4 linked regions of the Homo sapiens genome follow. The protein of the gene in region 3 interacts with the protein of the main gene of each other region in a pairwise test. Each region holds a gene or a part of one and is shown on either strand. Other genes may lie near its edges.

Region 1 (7,679 bases), on a different chromosome or scaffold from region 3:
CCACCACTATAATGTAAGCATCAGAAGAGAATAGATTTTAATCTATTTTATTCACTGACACATCCCCTGAACAGTGCCCAGCAAATAATAGGTACTCAATAAATATTTATTGTTGGTGTTGAATTTTTCAGTGAAAAAATCCCATCTGCAAAAGCCTAGTTTCCAGAACAGAGAAAGGTCCTGACTCTTCCATGAAGCGCACAAACATCCTGCTACTTTGAGGTTTTACTTACCCTGATCCCGGTGCCATTGTCTTGGATCTGAATCAACTTCAGGCCTCCCTCTTTAACAATCACTTGAATACTTGTGGATTTTGCATCTAAACTGGCAAATCAAACAGAAAATAATTTATCAGTCTGCAACTACTCTAATGTACATATTTTAATATGAGCCAAGCAATGATAACAAACTCCAAATACAAACAATAGTGCCTCATTAACGTGTTTTTCCTTTGTCTTACAGGCTCATACACTGTATGAGTTTACATATTGTGTGAGAGAGAGGGAAGAGACGGGCAGAGCAACCATCATTTCTAATAGGACATTCAGCACTATTTCTGTTCCTCTAGGAAAGACAGCAAGTGAAGTTAAAAATAGATTTCTTTTGGCAGATGTCTCTTCTCAACTAATTTTACTTTTACCTGAACTTTATTCAGCCTCAGGTTCCTAAGTGACTCTAATAAAATGTCACTAAATAATGTCACTAAAAAATAAAATTCTGAATGATTTTCTCTACTATTCCCTTTTATATTTACGATGGAGGGGAAAAAAAAAAGTAATGCAGAAAGTTAATAAATCTTTAGGAAGTCAATGAATTTTCTGGCCAGGCGCAATGGCTCACACCCATAATCCCAGCACTTTGGGAGGCCAAGGCGGGTGGATCACCTGAGGTCAGGAGTTTGAGACCAGCCTGACCAACATGGAGAAACCCCATTTGTACTAAAAATACAAAATTAGCCAGGCATGGTGACGCATGCCTGTAATCCCAGCTACTCAGGAGGCTAAGGCAGGAGAATCACTTGAACCCAGGAGGTGGAGGTTGCGGTGAGCTGAGATCGCGCCATTGCACTCCAACCTGGGCAACAAGGGCAAAACTCTGTCTCAAAAAAAAAAAAAAACCCAAAAAAAAGAAGTCAATAAATTTTTTGTGCTTTCAAAGAGTAGCCTATAAGCACAGACCAACTGCTAGAGAAAACAAATTTTCTAGCAGGGGCTGCATGAGAAAGAGTTATCTATTCCCCACACAGACAATTCTTTATTCAGAAATAAGATAATAGGCTGGGCACGGGGGCTCACACCTGTAATCCCAACACTTGGGGAGGCTGAGGTGGGCGGATCACCTGAGGTCAGGAGTTCAAGACCAGCCCGGCCAACATGGAGAAACCCCGTCTCTACTAAAAATAAAAAAATTAGCCGGGTGTGGTCATGCACGCCTGTACTCCCAGCTACTCGGGAGGCTGAGGCAGGAAGATCGCTTGAAACCAGGAGGCAGAGGTTGCCCTGAGCCAAGATCACGCCACTGCACTTCCGCCTGGGCAACAGAGTAAGACTTCATCTTAAAAAAAAAAGAAAGAAGACAATAAGTTACTTAAATATTACAGACATTTCTCATGAGCCCCTGTATTGAAGTTGTATTAGTCATCTCAACTTATATATTAAAAAGAGTATAACTGGACTCCATATAAAAATCTCCACTTGAGCCGGGCGCGGTGGCTCATGCTTGTAATCCCAGCACTTTGGGAGGCCAAAGCGGGCAGATCACCTGAGGTCAGGAAATCGAGACCATCCTGGCTAACATGGTGAAACCCTGTCTCTATTAAAAATACAAAAAACTGCAGGGCGCGGTGGCTCACGCCTGTAATCCCAGCACTTTGGAAGGCTGAGGCAGGCGGTTCACCTGAGATCGAGAGTTTTGACACCAGCCTGACCAACATGGAGAAATCCCATCTCTACTAAAAATACAAAATTAGCCAGGTGTGGTGGCACATGCCTATAGTCCTAGCTACTCGGGAGGCTGAGGCAGGAGAATCTCCCTTGAACCTGTGAGGAGGAGGTTGCAGTCAGCTGAGATCGCGCCACTGCACTCCAGCCTGGGTGACAAAGTGAGACTCCGTCTAAAAAAAAAATAAAAAAAAAATAAAAATCTCCACTTAAGTAATTAATTACAAGCCACCAAGCTAGTATGTTTAGTTTTGTTTTACAGTATTCTGGCACAGTACAATAATAGGCCCAGTTGTCCTGTCAATTCATTCTAACACAGTAGAAACAAAAGCCAGTCTGCCATTGCTTCTGTTACTACTATTACAAGTGAAAAGGAAAAAACATCCCCAGGTTCTTGCTCCTTCTTTCATCTACCTTCCAATTCTCTTCCTTTCCTTCAGTGGTCCTTTCTACCCACTGTTCTCTCAGTCCCATTGCCCTGAATAGTTTATACTTTCACAATAAATCCCTCTAGAAACCTACCACTCCAAACTGAAGCATTCTTTTTTCTATTAACGTACGGACGTCACTAACAACTGATTTTAACAAAATAATCTGACATAACGTTTAGGTGTATTTTGGGCTTGTCTTTTTGGAAGTTTATAGTCTGCACTCACTTTTCCTTCCACATGTTTCAAATCTCTTCCCTTCACATTTTTTGTCACAGTTATAAGCTTCAAAATCCAAGGATGACCCATAAAATCTGGTATCTTCGAAGTGCGTCCTCCGAAATAAAGGACAGGAAAACACTAAGAGGGGTCACTAATTTAACAATAGGGTAATCAGAAGTCAAGCCCAAAGTGCATCAGCCTGTCCTAAAACTACAAACGATTTGTTTTGAAAGAAACTCAAAATGAATTGTGCCTTTGGATGTGAACAGATGATTTCTGGAATGAATGAAAAGCAAGAAAACAGTAACACAGTACCCTCTGAAAAAAGGTTTTTCTCCCCATCTTAAGCTTTTATACATCTTTTAACTTCGCATGTTCTGCATACATAATTTTAAATTAAGTGGCTTCCTTACTTAGTTAACGGTACCATTAAGACAACACTACGTATATTCCTCCACTTACACTCCAAACAACCCTTAAAAGGTCTCGGGGGAGAGCGGTAAAGAAACACACGGTCTGCGGAAAAGGAGAAGGCCTGACTGGCACGTCAGGGAACCCGGCGGCCTCCGCCGTTGTGGGCATGCGCTGTACATGCCTCTGCCCGGGCAAAGAGGCGTGTCCGCGCCATTGAGTGACGCGGCCCGTTAAGTCGTAGCCCTTAAGTGAGCCCGGCTCGACTCCCTCCGTACCAGTTCTCAATCATCTCTTTGATAGCATTAGCTGGCCGCTGGATAACTTCCCCCGCCGCGATGCGGTTCACCACTGTCTCGTCCAGCCGCCGAATAACCCCTGCCACGAACGACATTTTGGCGCCAGAAGAGCCAAGGAAACGTCTAGATGCTCAACGGAAGTGCCTTCAGCCAATCACCTCAGTGCCTCGTGCTCACGTTCTTCCTTCAGCTGTAGCTTACGCCATCCAGCCCCACCCTTCAGCGGCAGCTATTGATTGGACAGCTTGAATGCCAGTCAAATTTCTCAACTCTGTGGGTTGCTGGGTCTCTTCGTCCCTCCCTGAAGCGGCTACTGCCCGCTACCTAGAAGGATATGCGCTTGCGCGTTAGAGATCGCTGTCCGCTCTTCCTATTGGTTCGTTTTTAGGAGCTCGGGGAATACGAAATATCCAGCCAATAGGAGCAGAGATGCCGGAACCGGGCTTGTGTGCCTCTGCTGAGGTGATCTGGCGCAGAGCGGAGGAGGTGCTTGGCGCTTCTCAGGCTCCTCCTCTCCCCTTGCGGCCTTTCTAACGTTGGCCCTGCTCTTGTGGCCTCCCGCAGAATGTGGATGACGCCCAAAAGAAGCAAGATGGAAGTCGACGAGGCTCTAGTTTTCCGGCCCGAGTGGACCCAGCGTTATTTGGTGGTGGAGCCTCCGGAGGGCGATGGGGCCCTGTGCCTGGTCTGTCGCCGCCTCATCGTAGCTACCCGCGAACGCGACGTCAGGCGCCACTACGAGGCTGAGCACGAATACTACGAGCGGTATGTGGCGGACGGCGAGCGCGCGGCCCTGGTGGAGCGTCTGCGTCAGGGCGACTTGCCCGTGGCCTCCTTCACTCCTGAAGAGAGAGCTGCTCGTGCAGGCCTCGGGCTCTGCCGCCTCTTGGCCTTGAAGGGTCGCGGCTGGGGTGAGGGGGACTTTGTATACCAGTGCATGGAGGTGTTGCTGAGAGAGGTACTGCCCGAGCATGTAAGCGTCCTGCAAGGCGTTGACTTATCTCCAGATATCACAAGGCAGAGGATCCTGAGCATTGACAGGAATCTACGCAACCAGCTTTTTAACCGAGCCAGGGACTTTAAAGCCTATTCTCTTGCCTTGGACGACCAGGCTTTTGTGGCCTATGAGAACTACCTCCTGGTCTTTATCCGCGGTGTAGGCCCTGAGTTGGAGGTGCAAGAAGATCTTCTGACCATAATCAACCTGACTCATCATTTCAGTGTTGGTGCGCTCATGTCGGCAATCCTAGAGTCCCTGCAGACAGCAGGGCTTAGCTTGCAGAGAATGGTTGGACTGACCACGACCCATACTTTGAGGATGATTGGTGAGAACTCAGGACTCGTCTCATACATGAGAGAAAAGGCCGTAAGCCCCAACTGTTGGAATGTCATTCATTATTCAGGATTTCTTCACTTGGAACTGTTGAGCTCCTATGATGTAGATGTTAATCAGATCATAAATACCATATCCGAATGGATAGTTTTGATTAAGACCAGAGGCGTTAGGCGACCTGAATTTCAGACTTTACTAACGGAATCTGAATCAGAGCATGGTGAAAGGGTTAATGGACGATGTCTGAACAATTGGCTTAGGAGAGGGAAAACTTTAAAACTAATATTCTCTCTAAGAAAAGAAATGGAAGCGTTCTTGGTTTCAGTAGGGGCAACAACAGTCCACTTCTCAGACAAACAATGGCTTTGTGACTTTGGCTTCTTGGTGGACATTATGGAACACCTTCGAGAACTCAGTGAAGAATTACGAGTTAGTAAAGTCTTTGCTGCTGCTGCCTTTGACCATATTTGTACTTTCGAAGTTAAGCTGAATTTATTTCAAAGACATATTGAGGAAAAAAATCTAACAGACTTTCCTGCCCTCAGAGAAGTTGTTGATGAGCTAAAACAGCAAAATAAGGAAGATGAAAAAATATTTGATCCTGATAGGTATCAAATGGTGATCTGTCGTCTCCAAAAAGAATTTGAGAGACATTTTAAGGACCTCAGGTTCATTAAAAAGGACTTAGAACTTTTTTCAAATCCATTTAACTTTAAACCTGAATATGCACCTATTTCAGTGAGGGTGGAGCTAACAAAACTTCAGGCAAACACTAATCTTTGGAATGAATACAGAATCAAAGACTTGGGGCAGTTTTATGCTGGATTGTCTGCTGAATCCTACCCAATTATCAAAGGGGTTGCCTGTAAGGTGGCATCCTTGTTTGATAGTAACCAAATCTGTGAAAAGGCTTTTTCATATTTGACTCGAAACCAACACACTTTGAGTCAGCCATTAACAGATGAGCATCTCCAAGCCCTGTTTCGGGTTGCCACAACTGAAATGGAGCCCGGTTGGGATGACCTTGTGAGAGAAAGAAATGAATCTAATCCATAAGGCTTTGTAGTACAAGATTGAAAAACTCAACAAGAATTTAATTCTAAAAGCAAAAATTGGTTTGAGTTTTCAAGTTTACTAATTTGGATTGTGAGAAAGTACCAAGTACCAGCCGTCCAAACTGATCACAATTAAAATTCTGACAGTTGCCTTTTTTTTCATCTCAAATGGCAGCATGGGACTGAAACATGAGAATGCCACCTTTTTTAAAACTTAGTTTAGTGACAAAGTCATTGTCTTTTATGATATAGTTAATTTTAAAGAGATTTAGTATTAATGTGAGTTGAATTTGCAGTCTGTTTTTTAGGTGTTCTGAAGATAAATGCCAAAAATTTCAGCTCTTATTTTAATGGAGTGTTAAAATTCTGATTCATATAGTCTTAAATTATCAACTCCTTAAATGTGCTTTTGAACCAATTTGCAGAAGCTCACATAGCAAGTTCATAAGTTTCCAAAAAGGAAGCCCATACATAACAGTGGAGGTGTTTTGTCTAACCATCAAAATGTTTGAGACTTTTTTTTAAACATTTCTGAGTTCGAAGGTAATACTGACAGATTTCTTCCCTCTTCCCTCCCCATCACCCACCTCAGTGATAACACATTACTGATAGAGGAAGTCATTAGAATCATTTTTAAGTTTCAGATATAGGAGACTTCATGCAATTTGGAGATAAGACTAATTATTGGGGGTTTTCCTTGGATTTTTTTTTTAATAACTGGGGGCTATTTTATCAGCTTGCCTATTAAAGGACTATGGTAAGTATAGAATCTTAATGGTTGCCAGTTAGTAATTCTTTTTTTTTTTTTTTTTACTGTAGACACAAGTTTGGCCCTATCAAAAACGATGAGGAAAAAAGATTGCACTCCAGGATTAGGAGGTGTGAGATATTTTAGCTTTTTTGTCTTATCTGCGTGGGTATTGCTGCTTTATTTTAAAAAATCCTGCCTAAAGTAAACACTTTGTTTTAAAATGATACAGTATCAGATTTTGTTAGATGCTAGAAATGGATTTATTCTAAAATTTGGAACTGTCGTACACATTCTATATGTAAGATAGCACACAAGTAGAAATATTTAAAAGCAGTCTTATTCACAGATTGCAGTAATTCTGTATTTCTACTAAGATAATCTGCTTTGTGCCAAAACAGTAATTTCCAAACTTCTGTTCACCATGAAAAGGCAATCTTAAAGTTCATTATGTAAAACTAATTATAAACAGGACCCAATTTATATTCATAGATCCTCTCAAGTATTATACAATTTAAAAACTCTTGTTCCAAAGTCCTGTCTTAACTATTGAAACACCTTAATCTGTGGTTACTAATCCAGCAAATTCAAGGAACCAGGCTATGACTAAGAATTTAGGTGGAATTGATGTCTGGGCAATTAAAATAAATGGCATAAGAGCTTAAAAACCAAAGTTGTGCCAGTGGCTTTCAACTAGAGGCAGTAACCTGTCATTCCAGAGGATGCTGAGAAATGTGTAGGGGCACTTTTTTGGTTGTCATATTTACTAGGGGCTTCTGTTGGCATTTAAGCCTAAAGACACTCACCCCTGCAGTGCATGGGACAGCCTGGCACAATGAAGAATTAGCCCTCCCAAAATGTAGATTATTTTATTTCAAGGGATAGGGCAGATTACCATTAGAAGCAAAATTAAAAGTACAAGCTGGGCAAACTGACAGAATACTAGATAGGAGAGACTAATTCCAACCTTCTAAATTTGGCTAGTAAAGTGCAATAAAGGCATTGATAAGTTCTGTTAGCTCACCATAGCACTTGTAAATCAGGAATTAATAATTGAATCAGATTTAAGGGCTCTGTCCTGTTATACATATTTAAGGCAGAAAAAAAGTTACATGTCGATTAGGTACTTATCAAGAATGGTCAAGCTGAGATTTTGGTTAATAGAGTAAGCTTACATATCTAGAGAAACAACATAGTGGAAAACCGAAAAAAAAAAACAGAAAAATCTACCGGTAATTTCCCA
Region 2 (7,868 bases), on a different chromosome or scaffold from region 3:
TTTCTTTCATGATCTATTATATTTATTATAACATTTAACTCTCAAAAGGCAGATTTTTTTTCTCTATGAATACAGGGTGGGGCACCCTTCTTGTTGCATCAGTGTGCTGCCTGCAATTTGTAGTTATATTGCATAAGACCATGTTGAGAGTTCTTTTTTGCATGTAATTCTAGAGCTAGAATGACTTTAGCAAGTATGTGGCTTGTCATCCTTATTTTTTAAGTGAGAAAACAGGGCCTCACAAATATTTTTGCTTAAAGTTAGTAGCAGAGCCATAGCTGGAATTCATATCCTTCGATTCCAAGTATAATGTCCTTTATGTCATTTCTTTCTATGTTGTTTTTCTCAAAAACAGACATCTTTTTGCCCCATCTTTCACCACTGCTTTGTTCACACCTGGGAACCACAAGTTTGTGGAACTCTCTTCTTATTGCAAATACCTGTTATCTTTTATCCAGGAAAAAAAATCAAATCAATTTCTAGTAGATTTGATCACTTGGACTTCTCTATTTGACACTTCCTTAGCTCTTTTTCATTTTTTGGCCTGGCTTTTTATTACCTCTTCAACTTTCTTATTAACAATCTCTATATTTTCATTTATATTCATCTTTGTTCCTAATTCTGTTGTGCTCCAAAAGAGAATTCTTTTGTATCTTTAAACTCATTCAAGTAGTGACCTAGACTGAAAGAATACTACAGACACCTTCTGTAGATGAATTACCATGAGATTAGCATCTTCAAGTTTTAAGAATTCTTAAGATGAATAGACTTTTCATGTTTTATTAGATTTTATCCTTATATTATGAGAGGAAAAAATACACAGATCTTTCTTAAGAATAATAGTTATCAACATTCTAGATCAGAGTTATTCTTTTTACTTATTTGTCCTGTCAGACTTTCATAATTTAAAATAATAGGTCTGTAGACAGTCACTTTCTTACACCTCATTTACTTTTTTTTTAAATTAAAGGCAAGTGGTCAAACTCTAAAAATCAAAAAACTTCATGTCAAAGGAAAAAAGACTAATGAGTCAAAGAAAGGCAAGAAGGTAACTTTAACAGGAGATACTGAAGATGAAGACTCTGCATCTACAAGTAGTTCACTAAAAAGAGGAAACAAAGACCTCAAGAAAAGAAAAATGGAGGAAAACACTTCTATTAACTTGTCAAAACAAGAAAGTTTTACTTCAGTTAAGAAACCTAAAAGAGATGACTCCAAGGACCTAGCTCTTTGCAGGTATTATTTCCGTTTTCATGCACTGTATATTTATAATGCCCCATTTTATTTGTTTAGAAACCTTTTACCATATTAAAGCTTTCTTTCTGATAATTTATGTAAATAAAAAAATGTAAAGCATAAATGTTAAGAAAATATATAAGTAAAAGTATAGTAAATGTATTCCTTTATCTTCTTTTAATGTTAATTTGCATTGAGTTTTTATTTGAAAGATTATAATTGGGCCTGGCACAGCGGCTCACACCTGAAATCCCAGCACTTTGAGAGGTCAAGACAGGTGGGTCACCTGAGGTCAGGAGTTCAAGACCAGCCTGGCCAACATGGTGAAACCCTGTCTCTACTAAAAATACAAAAATTAGCTGGGTATAGTGGCGTGCACCCATAATCCCAGCTACTCGAGGGGCTGAGGCAGGAGAATCACTTGAACCCGGGAGGCAGGGGTTGTAGTGAGCCGAGATGGTGCCACTGTGCTCCAGTCTGGGCGATAGAGCAAGACCCTATCTCATATATATATATATATATATATATATATATAAAATATATATATATATATATATATAATATATATATATATAATATATATATATATATAATATATATATATATATAATATATATATAATAACTGAAAGCTTTTTTAATTAAAAAATAAGACAGTTGTAAAGTATGGATACTGATTTCAAACATTATTTTCTTTAGTATGATTCTGACTGAAATGGAAACTCATGAGGATGCATGGCCTTTTCTACTTCCTGTAAACTTGAAACTTGTTCCTGGTTATAAGAAAGTTATTAAGAAGCCTATGGATTTTTCCACAATTAGAGAGAAACTAAGTAGTGGACAGTAAGTAAATCATTTCAGTTCACTAAATATTTATTGAATACCTGATATATGCTAGGCATATTTTTAGTGAGCCAAAGATATTTTAATTAACAGCAAGATATAGGCCCTGCCTTTGAGGCAGGTGTGTGTGTGTGTGTGTGTGTGTGTGTGTGTGTGTGTGTGTGTGTGTGTGTGTGTGTGTGTGTATTTGGTTAGAGTAGAATAGTATAGAAGAGAAACCAACTAAAATTATTTAAGAAATTAAAAACCCGTGTAATAAACCTGCTTTTGACATTGAAAGAGCACCACAAACCCAAGCTGAAGGTAAGGAAAAGTATCAGGAGAGCCTCCCAAAGTAAGTAACATATAAGCCGGAATTTGTATTTTGCATCCATGGAGTATCAACCACACGTCATATGGATTTAACAAAAATTGACTCAAATATTGTTAGATTATCACAATGTAGAAATAGAAGATCTTTGGAAGCTTTACATATTAAGAGCTTTAATGTGAGTTATTGGAGAATACCAAAATTCCATTTATTAAATGCGGGAGAGAAAGCTTATTTGCTTTTCTCTACCATATTCTCTTTGCAATCCTATTCCAAGAATAAAGTTACTTACTTTGGGAGGCTTTCCTGATACTCATACAATATATATTTTAATTACATTGTTATTATCCAGTATATTATTTAGTTCTTCCTATACATTCTTTTGGTGAAAATAACTGTTCTCTATGATTTATATTCAATTTAGAAGAGTTAAATAGAACTTATAATGATCAGCATCCCTCACATATATCAACTGATTTACTAGATTGACCAAATGACAAATTTATTTCTTTGGAGGATGAAATAACAGCCGTCCAAAGGTTTATGTCTGTTTTGTTTTATTATTTTTTAATTACAGAAGGGACCTGCCTAAGTTAAGGAAGCGTTTAAATGATTGATTGGTACTGATTGGTTCCAATATGCAAACACTGTTACCTAGATATGGACTAGTTCTTTTGTTTGTTCTTTTTTTTTTTTTTTGAGAGAGTTTCACTTTTGTTGCCCAAGCTGGAGTGCAGTGGTGCATCTCGGCTCACTGCAATCTCTGCCTCCCGGGTTCAAGTGATTCTCCTGCCTCAGCCTCCCAAGTAGCTGGGATTACAGGTGCACGCCACCATGCCTGGCTAATTTTTTGTATTTTTAGTATAAACAGGGTTTCACCATGTTAGCCAGGCTGGTCTCGAACTCCTGACCTCAGGTGATCCGCCCACCTCCACCTCCTAAAGTGCTGGGATTACAGGCGTGAACCACCTCACCCAGCCTCTTTTGTTTGTTCTATCAAAATAGTTGTCTAGGTAGATGGCACAATGAAATTTATAACTAACATGGCCAAGAAAAAGAATTACACATGAAGACTTTACTAGTATTTAAATTAACTCTTGATTTTAACTTCCATGATCTTCCAATTCCTGGATAAAAGATTAACGTAAACCTCAAAATTCCTAAAACAAATAGGCTTAGAAATATTTATAACAAAAAAATGCTACAAAATCATATGGGCCAGGCAAGGTGGCTCACGCCTGTAATCCCAGCACTTTGGGAGGTGGAGGCAGATGGATCACTTAAAGTCAGGAGTTCAAGACCAGCCTGGCCAATATGGTGAAATCTCATCTCTACTAAAAGTACAAAAATTAGCTGGGCATGGTGGTGTATGCCTGTAGTCCCAGCTACTCAGGGATGAGGCACAAGAATCACTTGAAACTGGAGGTGCAGGTTGCAGTGAGTTACCTCGCCACTGCACTCCAGCCTGGGCAACAGAGTGAGATTGTCTCAAAAAAAAAAAAAAAAGCTACAAAATCAGAGCTCCTTTGAAAAATGAGTCCCAGTGAATGGAGGAAGTCACAGGGGAAGAGAAAGAGAGAAGGAAACAGTCTGTGTATTCCTGTTTGTGATGCCAGGTGTGTGGGAAGCAAAATTTCAGTGGATTCAAGCTCCTCGAACTCTCCACTTTGAGTTGTTTGATTAAACCCAAATTAATGAGTTGGAACCAAAACTCACAAACCATATTTCAAATTTTTAAACTAGAAATTTTTAGAATAGAGGGAGGGGCCTACTTACATGAATTTTTCTGAGTTCCATTAGCTGCCCCATCCCATAAAGGAAGGACACACATATGAGTTGTATACTTTTTTCACCTAGAATCTCACCTAGAATTCTCTCCTGGACTCCACTCTCCCTAATGTTAATCATTAACCTTTTCTTAGGGTAAGGAACAAAGGCAGAAGTAGTTCTCAAATCAACTTTAAAATATTTTGTAAAAATCATTCCCACACAGATTGTATGATTCCATTTAGATGAAGTATCTGGAATAGATAAATCCATAGAGACAGATAGAAGATTGGTGGTTGCCAGGTACTGGGAAGAGGGAGGAATGGGGAATAACTGTTTAATGAGTATGATGTTTCCTTTCAGGGTGATGACAGTGTTTTAGAAGTGACGATAATACAGTGTTGTGACTTAAATGCCACTGAACTGTCCACCTTAATATGGTTAATTTTATGTGAATTTCTTAACCTCAGTAAAAATAAGCAAGTAATTCCTAGGAAAATGGATGAGGTTACATAAGGGCTGACTTAACTCTGTGAGCACATTACGCATAGAGAAATATTTCTTTCATTATCGCACAGAAGAAGCGAGTGAAAGGTCATACAAGATATTTCACCAAAGAAATAGAATTCCACTTTGACAAGATCTCACAGCGTCAGTGCCTCATAGGGTATTTCTCTTTTTTTAATTTTTATTTTAATTTTTGCAGGTACACAGTAGGTGTATATATTTATGGACTACATGAGATACAGGCATGCAATGCATAATAATCACATCATGGAAAATTGGGTATTCATCACCTCAAGCATTTATCCTTTGTGTTACAGATAATCCACTTCTACTCTTTTACTTATTTTAAAGTGTACAATTAAACTATGATTGACTATAGTCTCCTTGTTGTGCTGTCACATACTAGGTCTTATTCATTCCTTCTATTTTTTTGTACCCATTAACTATCCCCACCTCCCCACTGCAGTTCCCAGCCTCTGGTAACCATCCTTCTACTCTGTTTCCATGAGCTCAATTGTTTTGATTTTTAGATCCCACAAATAAGTGAGAACACGTGATGTTTGTGTTTCTGTGCCTGGCTTATTTCACTTAATATAATGACCTCCAGTTTGATCCACGTTGTTTCAAATGACAAAATCTCATTCTTTTTTTATGGCTGAATGGTGCGCCATTGTGTTTAAGTACCATGTTTTCTTTATCCATTCGTCTGTTGATGGACACTTAGATTGCTTCCAAACCTTGGCTATTGTGAACAGTGCTGCACCAAACATAGGAGTGCAAATATCTCTTTCATAAACTGATGTCCTTTCTTTTGGGTATATACTCAGCTGTGGGATTGCTGGATCACATGGTAGCTCTGTTTTTAGTTTTTTTGAGGAACCTACAAACTGTTCTCCATAGTGGTTGTACTAATTTACACTCATGAGATATTTTTAATGGTTACATTATTTTAGTATACAGATTGTCATAGGTTAGAATTAACTTAAAATTTGCATTTCTAAAAGCTATCTTTTAAAATGTATTGAACTGGCTTGAGTTGGTTTGAAATGACCATTCCCTTCTTACTAATAAGCTTATGCAGATTCATTCACCTTTCTTTTCTCTTTTCTGTTTTTCTACAGAGAAAGAGAATTGGGCTTATCCCGCCAGAAAAGCACAGAAGCCACAGTGCTTCTTGTTGAAAGACAGACCCTCATAATGTTACCTCTAGTAGAAAGATAGCATATGCTTGTTTTGCTTGTTTGGGTTCATCATACTCTATTGCTTGGGCAGAAGAGCACATATGAAGAGAAGAGAAATGGGAAATGGGGAAGACAACGCAGAGCACCATATCTTGGGGTGTATATAGAAGCTACAGGACAAGTGTAATTTTTATCATTGCATGGGGAGCATTGACATAATTTCTACTGCAGCTGAGCATTTTTTAATATGGATAATAGGATTCTGCAAGTGATACATTTGGTCAGAGAACTTAATAAACTAGTCAAGTGGGATAGGTCCTGTGACAGAATTGTGTGATACAGGTCAAACAGGAGTTGGGTTATGGGGAAAATGCCAGTTGAAATATGTTTTGATCTTTGGAGAAACCTATTTTTTCATTTAACCTGTTCTTTAAATCCAGTATGTTCCAGAACATACAAAAATGTTTAAATGTTCCATTTGTAAGAGGATATCATGTATTTTATATCAATTTAAATGCAGTTATCCTAATCATTTTTCTTTCATTTTTACCCTTTATTAACTCTTCATTTGTTTACAAAACAAATCCACTCTATGAACGCAATCTCTAATTATTTGTTTTCTTTCAGGTATCCAAACCTTGAAACCTTTGCTCTAGATGTCAGGCTTGTTTTTGACAACTGTGAAACATTTAATGAAGATGATTCTGATATAGGCAGAGCTGGCCACAATATGAGGAAGTATTTTGAAAAAAAGTGGACAGATACTTTCAAAGTGAGCTGAAGTTATAATAATCTCTTTATTTTTTTCCTTCTAAACAAGGACAAATGAGACCAGCAATGTGAACTGTATTTACATAAACGTGCAAGGCACATACATAATGACTTTCTTTTTCCTTAAGTATAAAAAAAAAGTATCAGAAGAATGATACCATTTTTAAAGGCTTCATTCCTACAACAACCAAGGCCCTCGGTTATTGGTTTGTGTGATTTATCAGCTAATTTAGGTAGAACAGGGAAGCACACCCAAAGAATTTTCAAAGGAAAGGGTGTTATAGTGCAATAGCAATTAAAATATATCAAATCGCACTGAATACTCAACACCAGAGCTCTAATGTGGGAAATGGTTCTCCTTTCCCTCTCAATAAATATCTATTTTTCATTTTTTTACTTTGTAGTTTATTTTTTAGTGAATGTATTTAATTTTATGAATTATTTATGATTAAACCACATCCAGAATCTTCGTTTTCTGTGAAAAGGAAGAACTAGAAAATTGCTTTAAATCTTGAAAATACAAGGAATGTTTTAAAATATAAAACAAAGCCAAGTTAAACTGTTTACACTGATGTGCTATAAAAGCACCAAAAAGAAACTTTACTGTAGAGTTACAAGTACATTTATATATATATGTTGCTGCATCACTTGTGTAGTTAAATTGTATTTCAAAACAGTGAAAAAATTGACATGTATATACTGTTCATTCTTGTTTATATTAAGTCTTGTTTTAAATATGTATTATGTGTATATATTGTTTGCAGACATTATTGTTCATGCCTTAGAGGATTGTAGCATTTTATTTTCGTCTGAAGGTAATGATAGCTATACAGTCTGTACAGTAATTATCCTCTACCAACACTGTGGCGTCTCCTTAATCTTGGTAGTGCCTGCCTTTGAAACAGGGTGTAGGGGATATTAGTTTTCCATTTTTCTATTTTGTTATATAATTTTAAGCCACCAGGGCCTAAATTAAAGTATAATCATTTGTATCCATGTGGAATAAAATTGTGACAATTTCCTACGCACACAGTATTTTTTCATAGAAACATTTCCCTCCCATTTGCCTTGCCTCAGAAATAAATTTAAAAGACGTTTGTAACCACTGTGTTTTATCTACTGTGTGTTGTGGTGGCCTGTTGGAGGCAAATAGATCAGATTTTTTTTGTACCTACGTAAGAGTACTTGAAGTTTTATTTAAAATAAAATGTTGTGGAAAAGGTAGCATTCTTTTTTTAGGAGTGTTATTTTTCA
Region 3 (7,890 bases):
TAAATCGAAAAATAGGAAGTCTTAGCAAAGAAATAGAAGATATAAAGAAAAATACAATGAAAAAATTTAAAACTGAAAAATACAAGTGAAACAAAAAAACTCACTGGACAGGCTAAATGGCAGGGTGGAAACGACAAAAGAACAAGTCAGTGAATTGTAGAGAATCAATAGAGACTATTTCATCTGAACAACACAGAGAAAATATTTTAAAAAATGAAAAGACTTATGGTCCTATGACATAATTTTTAAAAAACTCAACGTTCCTGTCATTGGAATCTCAACAAAGGAGAAATAGTATGCTGTTGAAAAAAAATGTGAAAAAAATAATAGCTGAAAGCTTCCCAAATTTAGAGAAAGATATAAATAAACCTATGTATTTAAGAAGCTCGGCAATCCCCAAACAGTATAAGCAATGAAATCCCTACTCAGAAAACACCATAATCAAAATGCTGAAAACTAAAGACAAAGAAAAAAATCTTGAAAGTATCTAGGAAAAAATAATTACATGAACAGGAATAATTTTCGTTTTACAATAATATTGGATTTATGGAAGAGTTGTCAAGATAACACAGAGTGTTTCCAGAAACTCTTCACCCAGTTTCCTCGATGTTAACCCAAAAGGCAATGAGGAAATCTAAATGACCAGGTTCCAGAGGAAGAAGAAACAAGTGTCTGGTGCCCAGAGACGACCAGATGCCCCACCAGTTCTGATCCATAGGAGAATGATCGTTCCACATGGCCAACTCCATCCTCATGCAGCAATTCCTCCACAAGCACAAGACAAGCTTGTCCTGATGTTCCTTGCCCTGGCAGATGTTCAGGACCTTCCTTTGATTCAACCCCTCCACCTAAATGGCCCAAGCTTTCGGGGCTGTCATTGTGAAGACCCCTTCCTATAAACCACAAGGCCCTACAGGTGCTGGACACTGTTGTTCTCACAAACACATCTCATGTCCACTTTTGCAGAGACTGAGGTACTTCAAGCTCCTTCCACCCTTGCATTCACTTTGTTCCTGTCTCTGTCTTGAAATGCTATTTCTTCCCCCTCTTTGCGAATCTCTCCCTCATCTTTCAGGTCTTAAATGTATGCCTTTGAAGAAGCTTTCACTGATTTCCCAGGCAAAATTAATTCCTCCTGTTCCTCTTTTTCATCACATTCTGTGTTTTTTAACTTTCTATAAAAACACTTATTGCAATGTGCAATTGTGTAACGATGTGATTATTTGTTGAATGTGCACATCAGTATCTCCATGATGACACGGATTGGATCGGGTTTTTGTTCATTTGCTGTATCAAGTGTTCTCAGAGTCACAGGGGGAAGGTGGTTATGGCATTGGGTGTGACACTTTTCCTTGCACAGATGTATTAGATTTTGTTCAGTAACAAAGCATAAAACCCAACCTCCCAGTGGCTTATAAAACAAACATTTACTTCTCAGTCATAGGTCTGTGGGTGAGTTGTCTTCTCTCTAGGCTTGGCTGTGCTCAGGTTTTGGGTTGGCTTCATTCTCAGGTCTGTTTGTCATTCAAGGGCCCAAGCTGAAGAGGGGGTTGTGGCCTAACCATGGTCGTGTTGTGCTGGACGTCACAGCAGAGGAGGAGGCGCAGAACAAAGGCTGCTCTCAAAACCTCTACTCAGACCCGGCCCACTCTCATCTGCTGGTATCCTGCTGTTTCAAAACCAGCCAGAGGGCCCAAGGTCAACATGAGGGAGAAATCAACCTCCCCCGCCTGTGAGACATAATGTTTCCAAACGGTCCCTTACTGGGCTGCTCTGTAACCACATCAGACCCTGGCACCCGGGACTGCACACTGCGGGCCCCATGGCCTGGGCCTCACAATTCTTAGAAACAGGTTCCACTCAGGAGGCCATGGGTGTCCCAAGTGAGGAACAACGTGCTCCAAATGTCACCCATCAGAGTTGTCGGAAAAGGAGGAAAACTTTGTCAAGGACCTTGGGTCAGTGCATTTCAGGAAAGCCCTGCCCCCGCGTTGACGCCACAGTGTACTTTTACAAAGCCCCTTAGTATCAAATTCAAGGTTGTCACTTACTGTCCGCTGATGTTTATTGAAAGCCTCTTGGGTGCTGGGAAGTGCACTTTTGGGTGGCGACACAGGCGAGAAGCCAGGCTTGGGTCAGGCCTTTCCTTTGTGGTTTCCCATCCCTCCACCTTCCCACAGAGTTGTCCCTTTAATTTAGACTCATCCCCACAACCCCTGTGAACCAGCAAGGGACAGCCAGGCAGAGCCCAGGTGACATGAACATAAAACAAATGAGACAAGAGGATTCATTGATACAAAACCAGGATGTCAGGAACCGTCACTTGAGAAATGCATTCTAGTGCTTTAGAACTCTTGTGAATTATGTTATCGGGTTAGTGGAAACGTGGGAAGTCTTTTCCTAGCCATATGCGAAAAGATTGTCTTTACACAGTAGGCAGACCAAAAATACACGCAGAATGAGTGGGAAACCCCATATGTGGTATGGGAGAAGGGGGAGCGCCAGCAGCAGATGCGCCATGACTTGAGTACTGGCCGTGTCCACACATTGTGCTAACTGCAGTGGCTGCTTTACTGCTTGGTGACGCAACCCTATGACAGAGTACTATTATTATCCCCCTATAAACACACAGCATCCACAGGATTGAAATGCAACTTCAAGAGCTACGCAAACAAGAATAAAGCGAGTACACGGTATCATGTCTGATGAGTGTGAACTTTCGTGGCAGAAGACTTGGTTCTGGTTCTGTCCAGGCCACTGGAACCCACTATCTGTGGGTGCAGGTGATTTTCCATCATGGAGCTAATACCTTAGCTGGGCATTATTTCACTTAATCCTTACAAGTGCCTTATTAGGTGCTTTCCATAGCTCTCCTTCAGCTGAGGTTTAGAGAAGTTAAACAATTTACCCAATATGTGAACTGGATATGTCTGACTCTACAACCGGTCTCTTCCATCCTATTTCCTCCATATAAGCCGTAACTTGGGTGCTTTTGTGAACATCAAAAAAGATGCGTATAAAGTCGCCTTGGGGAACGTTAAACCAAAGTCAATTAACATTACAAAATCAACTGAGGCCATATAGAACTTCCTTTAGAAAATTAACACATCCAATCATCATATTATTTCCCAAATGTTTACTTAGGTGCCTGTTGCAAGCACTATCTTATGTCATCTTCAATAAGCCCAAGAGGAAGCTTCTGCTCTAATCTTTAGATATTAAATTACGCGTTTCGGGGAAACTTCGCGTGTGAGGTAAAGCAACATGAGCGACTCTAAGGCGGCGCGGCATTGCTGTCCGGCCTCCTGCATCTCGGTGAGCAGAAAACGCGGGAGCGGGAGGGACTTCCCAGCTCCCGACGCCAGACACAGGCACAGCCGCCGCGTCAGAGGGAAGGCGACGTGGTTCAACAGCAACGGAGCCATTACTGGCGCTGAGCAGGGATGTTAAGGACAGAGCCAAGTTATCAGAGCTCTCCGAATCGAGTCCAGGGTCTGGACTGCCACAGACGGGTCGCCGCCTCCAGCCCCTGGACTTTTCCTTGGAGTGTCCGGGCGCGGACCTACTAGCTCCGAAGCCCTATGGGTGATCCCTTTCTGCTGGGCAACTGGGGTTGCGCTTTACACTACAAATCGAAGACGTCGCTTTTTCCATTTGTTCTGCAAGTGTTTATTGTGCACCGTCCACTCCCCCACAAACTCAATGTGCCGGCGGCAAGAGGCAAGACCGCAGACCCGTGGGCGCGCCTCCCGGTGTCGGCCGGTGTGCGCGGAGGGCGAAAGTGGCCGGGGCGCCCGCTCCGAGACGCGGCAGAGCCCCGCAGCCTCAGCGCCCGGCCTGCGCGCGCCCGGGGGAGGCTCTGGCCCACGCACATGCACACGCACGGGAGCGCTGGCTCCCGCGTCCCCGGCGCTGCGCCGGCGCCGGGCGCGGGCGGAAGCCCACGAACCAGGGCGGGAGGGAGCTTGAGGCGGGGCGGGTGTCCGCGAGCAGCGCTCGTGCTTAAGTTCCCTGGCTCCCGAAGCCCCGCCCTTGCCCCGCCCACTCCTTCTCCCGCGCGCGGGCTCCGCGCGCCCCAAGCCGCGCGCGTGCGCGCGCGTGCGCAGGCCAGGGCCCTCCGGGGGCGGCCCCGTAGTCTCCAACGAAAGCGTCGGCAAGGGCCCGGATTAACCCTTTCTTTGCTCGCCCACTTAGAGACCCGGTCGGGTTCCGTGCCTGCGCAAGCCGGCGGCGCGCCTTCCCCCCAGCCCGCACCGCGCATGCACGGGAAGGGGGGGGCGGTGGGGGTGTTCACGGCCGGCTAGACATTCTGTGCTCGTGCAGGAGGAGGGCTGCTACCATCAGGGACGTGCACGATTTCCCCCACCCCGCCCCCTCCCCAAACTCCAAAAAAAAATCCAAAACACACTGCCACCCACCGTGCCCCCGCGCCCCGAGCCCCTCCGGTCCCGGCCTGCGTTTGCTAGCGAGCGCGGGGAACCCACGGCAGTGTCTGTGCCTGTGCCAGGCTGCAGGTAAGCGCGGGCCAGGGTGCGGAAGGGGCTGGGGCCGTCCGCAAGGCGGGCGCGGGGGCGGCCGGCGGCTGGCGGGGCGGCCCGGAAGACGCGCGTTCTCGCCGAGCTCTGGGGCACCAGCCAGCTCCAGGATGTGCGGCGGCCGCCAGCGGCGCGGCGCGGTGCGAGCGGGGACGGGCGTGGGCCAGGGTTGGGCGTGGGGCCGGGGCGCCCCGGGGGCCGCGCGGGCCGGCGAGCGGGCTCGGGGAGCGGCCAGGCGGCGGCGGCCCCGCGCGCGCGCTCGCAGAGCCTCGGCGGCCGAGTTCATGGCCGCCCCCGCTCGCACCGCCGCAGTGCACCGCGGTGGGGGTGGGGACGGCCCGAACCCAGCGCGGAGCGCGGCCCGCCGGGCGCCGCCCCTCCGAGCCGCGGGCCCCGCCGCGCCGCCTACAGCCGCCGGCGGAGGAGGGGGCCGGGACCCAGCGCACGCACTCCCGGGTGCGCCCGCGGAGCTTGGGTTAGCCGGCCGCGCGCCGCCCCCGCCCCCGGCCGCGGGAGGGCGGGGGAGGGCCCGGCGCGAGCTGGCCGGGGAGTGCGCGGGGCGCGAGCTCCGGGCTCGCGGGCGGAGCGGGGCGCGGCGCGGCGCGGGGCTGCGGAGCCGGCCGCACGCCCGCTCCCGCTCGTCGCGCCGCCGGGGCCGCCGCGGGCCGCAGTCCCTCCCTGCGCGCTCCGAGCCGCGGTCCCAAGCCTGCGCTCGACGTCTGATTATGAAAGGGAAAGTGGCCCTTTCACCACCTGGCTCCCAGGCTGGGAGCTTTTGTCTGGGAAGGAGTGCAAACGGCCTCCTCCACTCCCCACCTCCCAGGCCCAAAGAAATTGAGAGGGAGGACTCGATACGCCTTGAGGGCTTCTTGGGTCTGCGCTTGGCTCCCTGCTTCCTCCCGACTCCGAAGTTGCAAGCTTGCAACAAGGAAGTCGTGCAGCCGCCATTGTCGGGCTGCCCGGGGCAGGGGAGGCGGCTGCAGCTGCTTATGTAAGTTTTTGGCTTTGCGGGAAGCCCGGCTCCCTGCACTGTAACGCGGCTTAGCGCGCCCGCAGTTTGGAGAGCAATTAGGAAGGGGCAGCCTTATTATGAAGGTGGTGTTGGGGCTACGTCTTTTCCTACACCTGCCTACACAGATGCTGGCAACAGCTGTCTTCCAGTTTTGACTCACCTGAACTGAGCAATTGGACATCTCAATGGCAAGGGGGGCGGGGCGGGGAGGAGGCGGCTTTGGACACACATGGTCTCTCTTCCAGGTCTCATACATCTTGAGAGAGAGAGGGGAGAGGGGCGAGTGGCCAAGTACACACTAGCCAAAACAACAACAACACATTGATATGTTGTCATAGCTAGTCTAAGGCCACTCCTCTCTCTGGTCCCATGCACTTTTATCCCACAAGCCCTAGGACGAGTTAGTGACAACAGTAGTAAGTGTCACAGTGTAAGGTTTTTGCTGGGCTGCCTAGCCTCTGGATGATTACAGGCCTGGGTGCTTCTAGGGAATAGAGAGGCAGAAACACGTAGAATGATCAAGTCAGAATCATCTTTTGGAAATGTTGCCTAACCTCAAACTTCAGATGAGACATCCCGCTTCTACGCTGGGTAGCTCGGTGTGTTCACTTTTCTTTAGAAGGAGCTTATTATGGGTTTCAAGGTGTTGGTCTCCAGGTTGGAGTCTTGTTCCATGGTTTTTGTGTAAGACTGTTACAGCCCAGTCCTTTGCTCCTACCACACCAAACAACTTATCTGTGTGGTCACTGTTCAGTAGAGGAAACTTTTTGTTTTTCAGGATATGGGTCTGCAGGATGGAGTTCTTCCGGTAAGAGTTAAAACTCACAAAAAAGCTGAAATTCTTTCACCCTTATTGTAGGGATAGAGGTAAAAACACCTGGATTTATCAAATACAATCTTAAAAACAAACGTGTATGCTATTAATACATCACACAGGTGCAGAAAGAAAAAGCAATCATTGTTCCCTCTCCTCCCATGTTACCTGTTGGGTTTATGTACTTCTATAGCTTTATTTGTAAGGTATATACTTCTATAGGTTTGTATGAGCCGAGAGAAAAATGTAGAGGGCTAACATACCCAGCGGGAAATGGGATAGGTGTAGGGGGCACGGTGCACTTGTTTTTTTCTATATCTGTGTAGCCATCAATCTCTGTACAAATATGGACATGAGCTTAGTGTGTGAGGAGAAATCCCTTAATGGTTCTCCAACCCCTCCTTCCAGTTCCTAGGGCACAGCCCCTTTATGCCCGAGTGCTACAGCCCTTATCTGTTCTAGTCCATATCTGTTCAGAACTGCACTTGATGTACCAGCTACCTACCTGCCACTCTCCCCAACCTGAAAATGCACAAAAGAGGGAACAAGAAAGTTTATTTTTAAAAAATCAATTCTTGGTTTAGGATTTGGGATACAGGAAGATCCTACCTCATTCTTGTTTATCCTTTCCTCTGTAGGTCTGGCGTGCTCCTGATCAGAGTTACTCTGATCTGAAGATTTTGGCGTTCAAGGCATTAAGATAATAGCCTGAGTTGTTCATGGTAACTATAACTTTGGATATTAAATCTTGATGAAAATGACTTGGCATTTGCTTTAAAATATATATACCAATTCTGATTGTGCATGAACACTTCTATTTGTCTGGGGGAAAATATTAGCCGAATAAAAGTAAAACAATGTTTTTAAAAAGGAAACATAGAGAATGCTTTAAGATGACCAGTTTTTTAACATGATGACAGAGATCTTTCATGCCAGTTCCAAATTTTTGCTTATAAAATACTCTCAGCACTTATCAAGTACTTACATCTGGTGTTGATGGCACTTTTATCTGGATGCAGGTAGATTGGCATCTAGAGAGAACAAAGCCACTTCCCAAATGTCATCTCATTCTCTTAAGGTCAGATTAAACCTTGACCTTCATTTAGAAGTGGCCCAAAAGTGCTGTGGAAAATCTAGAACACAACACTCAATGGGATATTTTGGCAGTAATGTTCCTCTCTAGTTCTGCAATAGTAATTTGTTCCTTCTGTCAAGGAGGTATAACATAATTATTTTGCTGAATCCTCCATAGAGTAGATGGAATAAGAGTAGGTGCAACAGAGAGGACTAGAGGATTGTTCCCTTGAACCTGTTTCTTAAAACTTGAGTTTGAGTTATTTGATTATCTCTAGTCAGGAAGCACTGGTTTTGCAGCCAGATTGTCTGCATTTAAGTCCCAGCTCTTCACTAAATAGCTATAGAATATTGGGCAGATTTCTAACTTTGTCTCTAAAATAAGGATAGTGATACGTACTCATGAGGTTACCTGAATATTAAATTAATTAAAACATGTAAAGCACATAGAACAA
Region 4 (5,963 bases), on a different chromosome or scaffold from region 3:
GCTCACTGCGACCTCCATCTCCCGCATTCAAGCACTTCTCCTGCCTCAGCCTCCCAAAGTGCTGGAATTACAGGCGTGAGCCACCACGCCCGGCCTAATTTTTGTATTTTTGGTAGAGACAAGGTTTCACCACATTGGCCGGCCTTGTCTCGAATTCCTGACCTCAGATGATTCACCTTCCTCAGCCTCCCAAAGTGCTGGGATTACAGGCAGGAGCTGCCGCGCCTGTCCTACACCACATCATTTTGGAACAGTTGCTCACCCTTTGAGCCTCAGTATTCTCATCGTTAAAATGATCCTGCCCACAGCCAGGAGAGTGTGAGATAGTGTATAGAGGTGTTTATATCATTCCTGACACGAAAAAGCACCCAGCATGTGACAGCGATCTTTTCCTTTTAACTCTGCAATGAGCCGAGGAGGAGGTTGCAACATCCCGCAGCACCCAGCACTGTGCCTTTCCCTTGGTAGGCCCTTAGCTGAGTTAACAGATGGATGCCATCGGGGTGGGACAGGAGAAGACATACCAGGACACGGAGCTCAGTGGCGGTGCAGGCGAGCTACGGGTTAGCAGAAAGAGACTGCGCACACGTACACACTCCCCCACTCCTGCCGAGTTCAGAGGGTCTTTATCCAAGGATAGGAGGTTCCAAGTGGCTTCACGGAACAGGACAGGCAACACGTCGTAGCGTATCTTTTCCTCAGCCCCTCAGTTGGCTCAGTCACTGCCTCTTTCACACTCAAAACATTCCAGAAGAATGTGCCAAGGCCCTGTGCACTTCCATGTAAGGCAGTGTTTACAGGCACCGGCACCTCCTGATGTGTGAGCCAGACACAGGAGCAGCAGAGCTTCAGCCGCCTCCTCAGGGTCGAGGGAAGTCCCATTCCAGCTCAGGTTTCCTGTGAGCCCCTAGTGCGGGTAGTGTGTATGTGTGTGTGTGTATATATGTGTGTATGCGTGTGTGTGTTTAAGCTCAACTTCAAAATATCCCCTTGATCAGTAGTGACCAGACCTCCATTGACAGCACATCTGCTGTCTACCTGACACCAGCAGGGTCTGTGCGTGTTCAAGCATGTGTGGAGGTTTACATGAGTGAGATCATTATGGCCTTCATCTGGAGTTCTTTTTTTTTTTTTTTAATATTTTTATGGAGACGACGTCTTGCTATGTTGCCCAGGCTGGTCATGAATTCCTGACCTCAAGCAGTCCTCCTGCCTTGGCCTCCCAAAGTACTTGGGATTACAGGTGTGAGCCACTGTGCTTGTGCCTATCTGGAGTTCTTAAGGAACGCTAAGTCCACTCTCTGAGCCTCTTCAGTGAACTTAGAGTCTTGCCGTGAAAAAAGTTAGGCCACTTCTTATACAGTGGCATAAAGCATATATTTTAATTAAAGGAATAGGACAGTGTGCAGGTGGGAGCCGGTGGCTGAGCTCTCTGCTTCTGCCAAGAGGCTCCGGCTTTGAGGCACTCCAGCTGCCTTTGCAGACCACTAGAGGGCACCAAAGAATGCCTGGGAAGGCCCTGGTGGCTTCAGGCGCTTCCTGGAGCAAACTCTTTCGGGCCCTGCTCTGCCTGGAGACAGGGTTTGCCACCCACATCAGCCCAGGGACAGCCTTTGAAGGGGCCTGAGGCACTAACAAGGACAAGGACTGTGTCCTGTGACCTGCTGTGTTTGTCCCCAAAGTGTCCGTGAGGAGTGGGGTGCAGGGCCTGCCACGTAAAGTTAGTGGGTGAGGGCGGGATGGTCTGGCCTGCGTGCCTTTCCTAACTACCATGTGCATGGTTTTTGAACATTCTGAATCTTACTGGCTTCCAAGATGGGCCGTGGCAGGGCAGCACTGGGATATGTGAAGACCTGGTATGTTTGTGTGAATCTCTGCTCTTACTTTGTAGTTTAATTTGTATGTAAGAAAAGTCTGTGTTTATCTTGTTCTGTTTATTTTTATTTATTTATTTTGAGGGGGGGAACAGAGTCTTGCTCTGTCGCCCAGGCTGGAATGCAATGGCACAATCTCAGCTCAGTGCAACCTCTGCCTCCCGGGTTCAAGCGATTCTCCTGCCTCAGCCTCCCGAGTAGCTGGGACTATAGGCATGCCCCACCACGCCCGGCTAATTTTTGTATTTTTAGTAGAGACGGGGTTTCACCATGTTGGTCAGGCTGGTCTCGAACTCCTGACCTCAAGTGATCTGCCCGCTTTGGCTTCCCAAAATGCTAGGATTACAGGCGTGAGCCACAGCGACCGGCCTATCTTGTTCTGTTTAAATGGTTTTCTCAAATGCCCACGAATGCCAGGCAGGGATCCCAGGCAGCAGAGACCTCACAATGCCAGTCTGGTGGGCCACAGCCTCATCCACGTTCCACATAACCTATGCAGGTCCCTGAGGGAACTGAGTAAATGCTTCACAGACCAAGAATGTTGTCCTTGCCATCTGCCTGCAACCTGCTAATAAGCGTCAGGTTGTGTATGGCCAAGCCTCTCCTCTCATGCTGTCCAGTAGAAGTCCCTGAGTTTCTGGACCCTGTCACTCATCACAGCAGCAAGCTAATGTGCTCTCGTGGGGCCTGTGTTGGACTTTTCCTTGTGCCCTCTGTAGCCACTGTTTTTTGAATGCCCACAGTATGCCAGGCACAATGCCAGGTTCCTAAGCTTATTTGCCGGGCGCTGTGCTGAGCCTTTACTTGCGTTATTTCATTCAGCTTTCATGCCCTCTAATGGCAGTGCCCTTAGTATCTCCATCCTGCATCTGAGAACACTGAGGCTTAGTGACTGAGGGGCGTGCCCCAGCTCACCTGGCTGGTAGGAGCCGGATTGCGTCCGCCAGAACCTGAGCTCTGCTTTATTTATGTATTTATTTATTTATTTATTTATTTATTTATGAGATGGAGTCTCACTCTGTCACCCAGGCTGGAGTGCAGTGGTGCAATCTCCACTGACTCCAGCCTCCACCTCCCAGGTTCAAGCAATTCTCTCACCTCAGCCTCCCAAGTAGGTGGGATTACAGGTGCCTGCCACCATGCCCGACTAATTTTTGTATTTTCAGTAGAGACAGGGTTTCACCATGTTGGCCAGGCTGGTCTCGAACTCCTGACCTCAAATGATCTGCCCACCTCAGCCTCCCAAAATGCTGGGATTACAGGTGTGAGCCACCGCGCCCAGCCTGAGCTCTGCTTTATACTCAAATCTTTCTCTTTTTTTTTGAGGCAGGGTCTCTGTCACCCAGGCTGGAGTGCAGTGGCACAATCACAGCTCACTGAAGCCTCAGTCTCCCAGGCTCAAGCGATCCTCCTGCCTCAGCCTCCCGAGTATGGGAGTACAGGCATGTACCACCATGCCTGGCTAATATTTTGGGGGGGTTTAGTAAACAAAGGGTCTCACTATATTGCCCAAGCTGGTCTGGAACTCTTGAACTCAAGCAATCCTCCAGCCTCAGTCTCCCAGAAGGCTGGGATTATAGATATAAGCCACTGTGCCCAGCCTATACTTGAATCTTTAATGTTCATCCCAAACCCTAAAGGTAGACATTACCCCCATTTTATGGAAAAGGACACTGAGGCTCAGAAAGGTGCTGTGACCCGGCCAAGGCCCCCTTGCTAGTGAGTGCAAAGCCAGGACTCGAACTGTCCCCCAGCTTCTGTCTCCTCCTGGGCCAGGCTTCCCCTGAGCTCCTCCCTGCCCCCAGCCCTGGCCTGCAGCTGCAAGGGTTATTTTCATCTCTCCTGTCATTCCAGCAAAACCACTGGGCCAGTGAGTCAGTCTTGTGGTTAAGGGAGGAAGGGTACTGTTGGGAGCCCGCAATGGAAGACGTTTCTTCAGCGGGTGGCCCCCGGGCCCTGCAGTACCCCTGCACCGAGAGAAGAGCCATGTTCCTCTAGGCCTGCCCATGGCTTTGGGAAGTCAGTGCCCTGGATAAGCCACCAGCCTTCCCCACAAAGGCTCAGGAGTGGCAGTTGAGAAGTATTCACTCCCAATTCACTTGGACCCCCTTGTCCTCTCCACCCAGGTGTCAGCGGTGCCCACTGTGCTGGCCATGAAGAATGGGGACGTGGTGGACAAGTTTGTGGGCATCAAGGATGAGGATCAGTTGGAGGCCTTCCTGAAGAAGCTGATTGGCTGACAAGCAGGGATGAGTCCTGGTTCCCTTGCCCGCGTGGGACCCCAATAGAACTCAGCCCTTCCATGCCAGCCCTTCCTGCTGCCTCCCTCCTGTCTGGCTCCTGGGGCCCATGCTTAGAGCCCAGGCTCCAGCCCTGAGTGCTTCCGAGCTGGCGGACTGCCCAGGGGCCATCAGAGGATGGTGGTGCTGCTGCTGATCCGGGGACCGCTGTCTTCCCTCCCATACGCCTTTCATCCCTCCTTCTAGGGCCTATGGCAGTTCTCCCAGGATGTGTGGCGAGAGCCTGGGCCAGCCCACAGCGTTCCTAGTCAGGCAGCCACACCTTGGTCCTCATCTTGGTCCCTTCCAATCTGAAACCTCGTGCCTGGCTCGTCTGCCACCTACATTTCTCTTTCCAGCTGCTGTTTTGTAAAAAGAAAAAGAAAAAAGAAGCCCAAACTAGTGAGAGTAATATCTAATTATCTCATTTTTTGTAGGTCTGTGATAAAGAACTTAGTCATCCCTTCCACCTCCTACTGTGAAGAACAGACCCTGGGTCCCACACTGAAATCCCCTCTAGTCACCCATTCCCACCCCCCAGGGAGCTGCCTCCCAGGCAGGGGGTGCAGAAAATGATTGATGGGCTGGGGAACCCTGGAGAGCCTCGACTCCGGAAGTCTCAAGGTGCCTCCTCCTCTCCTTAGCTGGCCCGTTGGTTTTCTGAGCAGGGGGCTGAACTGTGAACAAGTCAGACAAATAAAGCAAGGGTCTGCACCATCTGCAATGTCACATCTGTGTGGGCTCAGAGCACTTGTCACCCTTTCCCAGGGGGCTTGTCCACTGTCCCCACATCCTCCCCTAACTCCACAACACTCTCTCCAACCAGCCCTTCCTGTTCACTAACATGCTTGTCAGCAGTGGCTGCTATTCTAAGGATGCCATGTGCCAGTCCTCGTGCCCTCCTAAGGCAAGAGGCTGTTGTCCCCATTACCCCGATGTAGACACTGTGGCTCATGGGATGCAGAGCTGGGGTTTCTATCCAGACGTGGTTGCCTCTGAAACCTGGGCTCCCACAGCTGATCCCCTTGACCCTTCTGAGGCCTCCCCAACTGACAGGGCTCCTGGCTGCCCCAGCAGGTGCCTGGCCCTGTGGGGATCAGGCTATCCTTCCCATGGGTGCCTGCAGGAACTTCTGGGCCTTGGGACCAGACAACCCCTCTTGGCCCCCAGCTCCCCTTGGCCATAGAGGAGTGTGCCAAGGGAGCCAGGCTTGCCAGTCAAGAAAGCCTTCCTTCCGTCTGCCTTGCTCCTAGGGCCAAGCTGTCATTAGGGCTCGGTTGCCTGGATGAGGCCCCAGCTTCCTGTGAATCAGGTGCTTGGCGGCAGGGGGATCCTGACACCCTACTCCGTGGCCCCAGGGATGCCATGGGGCTGGTATTGCTCTGTTCTCAGAGGCTCACCCTGTTCTATTAGAACTGTCTGCATTCTCCAGGGGCCCACCCAAGGACTGCCTTGGGAAGGCTGCCGAGACCGAGGGAGGAGAGGGGCCCGTGGCCTCTGAAGGACCCCAGACCCTGGGGTCTGTCACAAGCACATGGAGGGGACAAAACCAGCAACTGGCGTCAGTGGAGACGGAAGCTGGTGGAGTGAACATCCTGCAAAGGCCAAAAGCCCTGGTTAAGATGAGCAGGACCTGCCCAGACTCAGGAGGCACCTCCCAGGTACCTGGCACTGTTTTGAGGGTCTCAGCTCAGCACAGCCCCGCGGGAAGGCGTTGCCCTTCAGATTCCACCTGAGACCTGCCCCGAGAGGTTGAGGAGCCTTCCCCAGGTCACAAAGCCCCTGAGTGGCTGAGCTGGGATTCAAGGCC

Evidence for each region.
Region 1: the proteins of ZBTB14 (region 3) and EPM2AIP1 interact in binary tests that used the Homo sapiens proteins (3 or more experiments, as listed by UniProt).
Region 2: the proteins of ZBTB14 (region 3) and BAZ2B interact in binary tests that used the Homo sapiens proteins (3 or more experiments, as listed by UniProt).
Region 4: the proteins of ZBTB14 (region 3) and TXN2 interact in binary tests that used the Homo sapiens proteins (3 or more experiments, as listed by UniProt).

The regions. Positions count from the first base shown.
Region 1 is NC_000003.12:36,989,264-36,996,942, reverse strand, and holds the start of EPM2AIP1 (EPM2A-interacting protein 1), read left to right. Parts: upstream 1-3,811; 5' UTR 3,812-3,865; coding exon 3,866-5,689; 3' UTR 5,690-7,679. Other genes in the region: DNA mismatch repair protein Mlh1, read right to left, coding at 234-324, 3,280-3,395.
Region 2 is NC_000002.12:159,319,021-159,326,888, reverse strand, and holds part of BAZ2B (bromodomain adjacent to zinc finger domain protein 2B), read left to right. Parts: intron 1-970; coding exon 971-1,236; intron 1,237-1,934; coding exon 1,935-2,078; intron 2,079-6,470; coding exon 6,471-6,624; 3' UTR 6,625-7,868. UniProt on the Homo sapiens protein: Regulatory subunit of the ATP-dependent BRF-1 and BRF-5 ISWI chromatin remodeling complexes, which form ordered nucleosome arrays on chromatin and facilitate access to DNA during DNA-templated processes such as DNA replication, transcription, and repair.
Region 3 is NC_000018.10:5,292,437-5,300,326, reverse strand, and holds the start of ZBTB14 (zinc finger and BTB domain-containing protein 14), read left to right. Parts: upstream 1-4,600; 5' UTR 4,601-4,675; intron 4,676-4,905; exon of another isoform or gene 4,906-6,146; intron 6,147-6,325; 5' UTR 6,326-6,355; intron 6,356-6,999; 5' UTR 7,000-7,080; coding exon 7,081-7,083; intron 7,084-7,890. UniProt on the Homo sapiens protein: Transcriptional activator of the dopamine transporter (DAT), binding it's promoter at the consensus sequence 5'-CCTGCACAGTTCACGGA-3'. Binds to 5'-d(GCC)(n)-3' trinucleotide repeats in promoter regions and acts as a repressor of the FMR1 gene.
Region 4 is NC_000022.11:36,465,955-36,471,917, reverse strand, and holds the end of TXN2 (thioredoxin, mitochondrial precursor), read left to right. Parts: intron 1-4,000; coding exon 4,001-4,114; 3' UTR 4,115-4,872; downstream 4,873-5,963.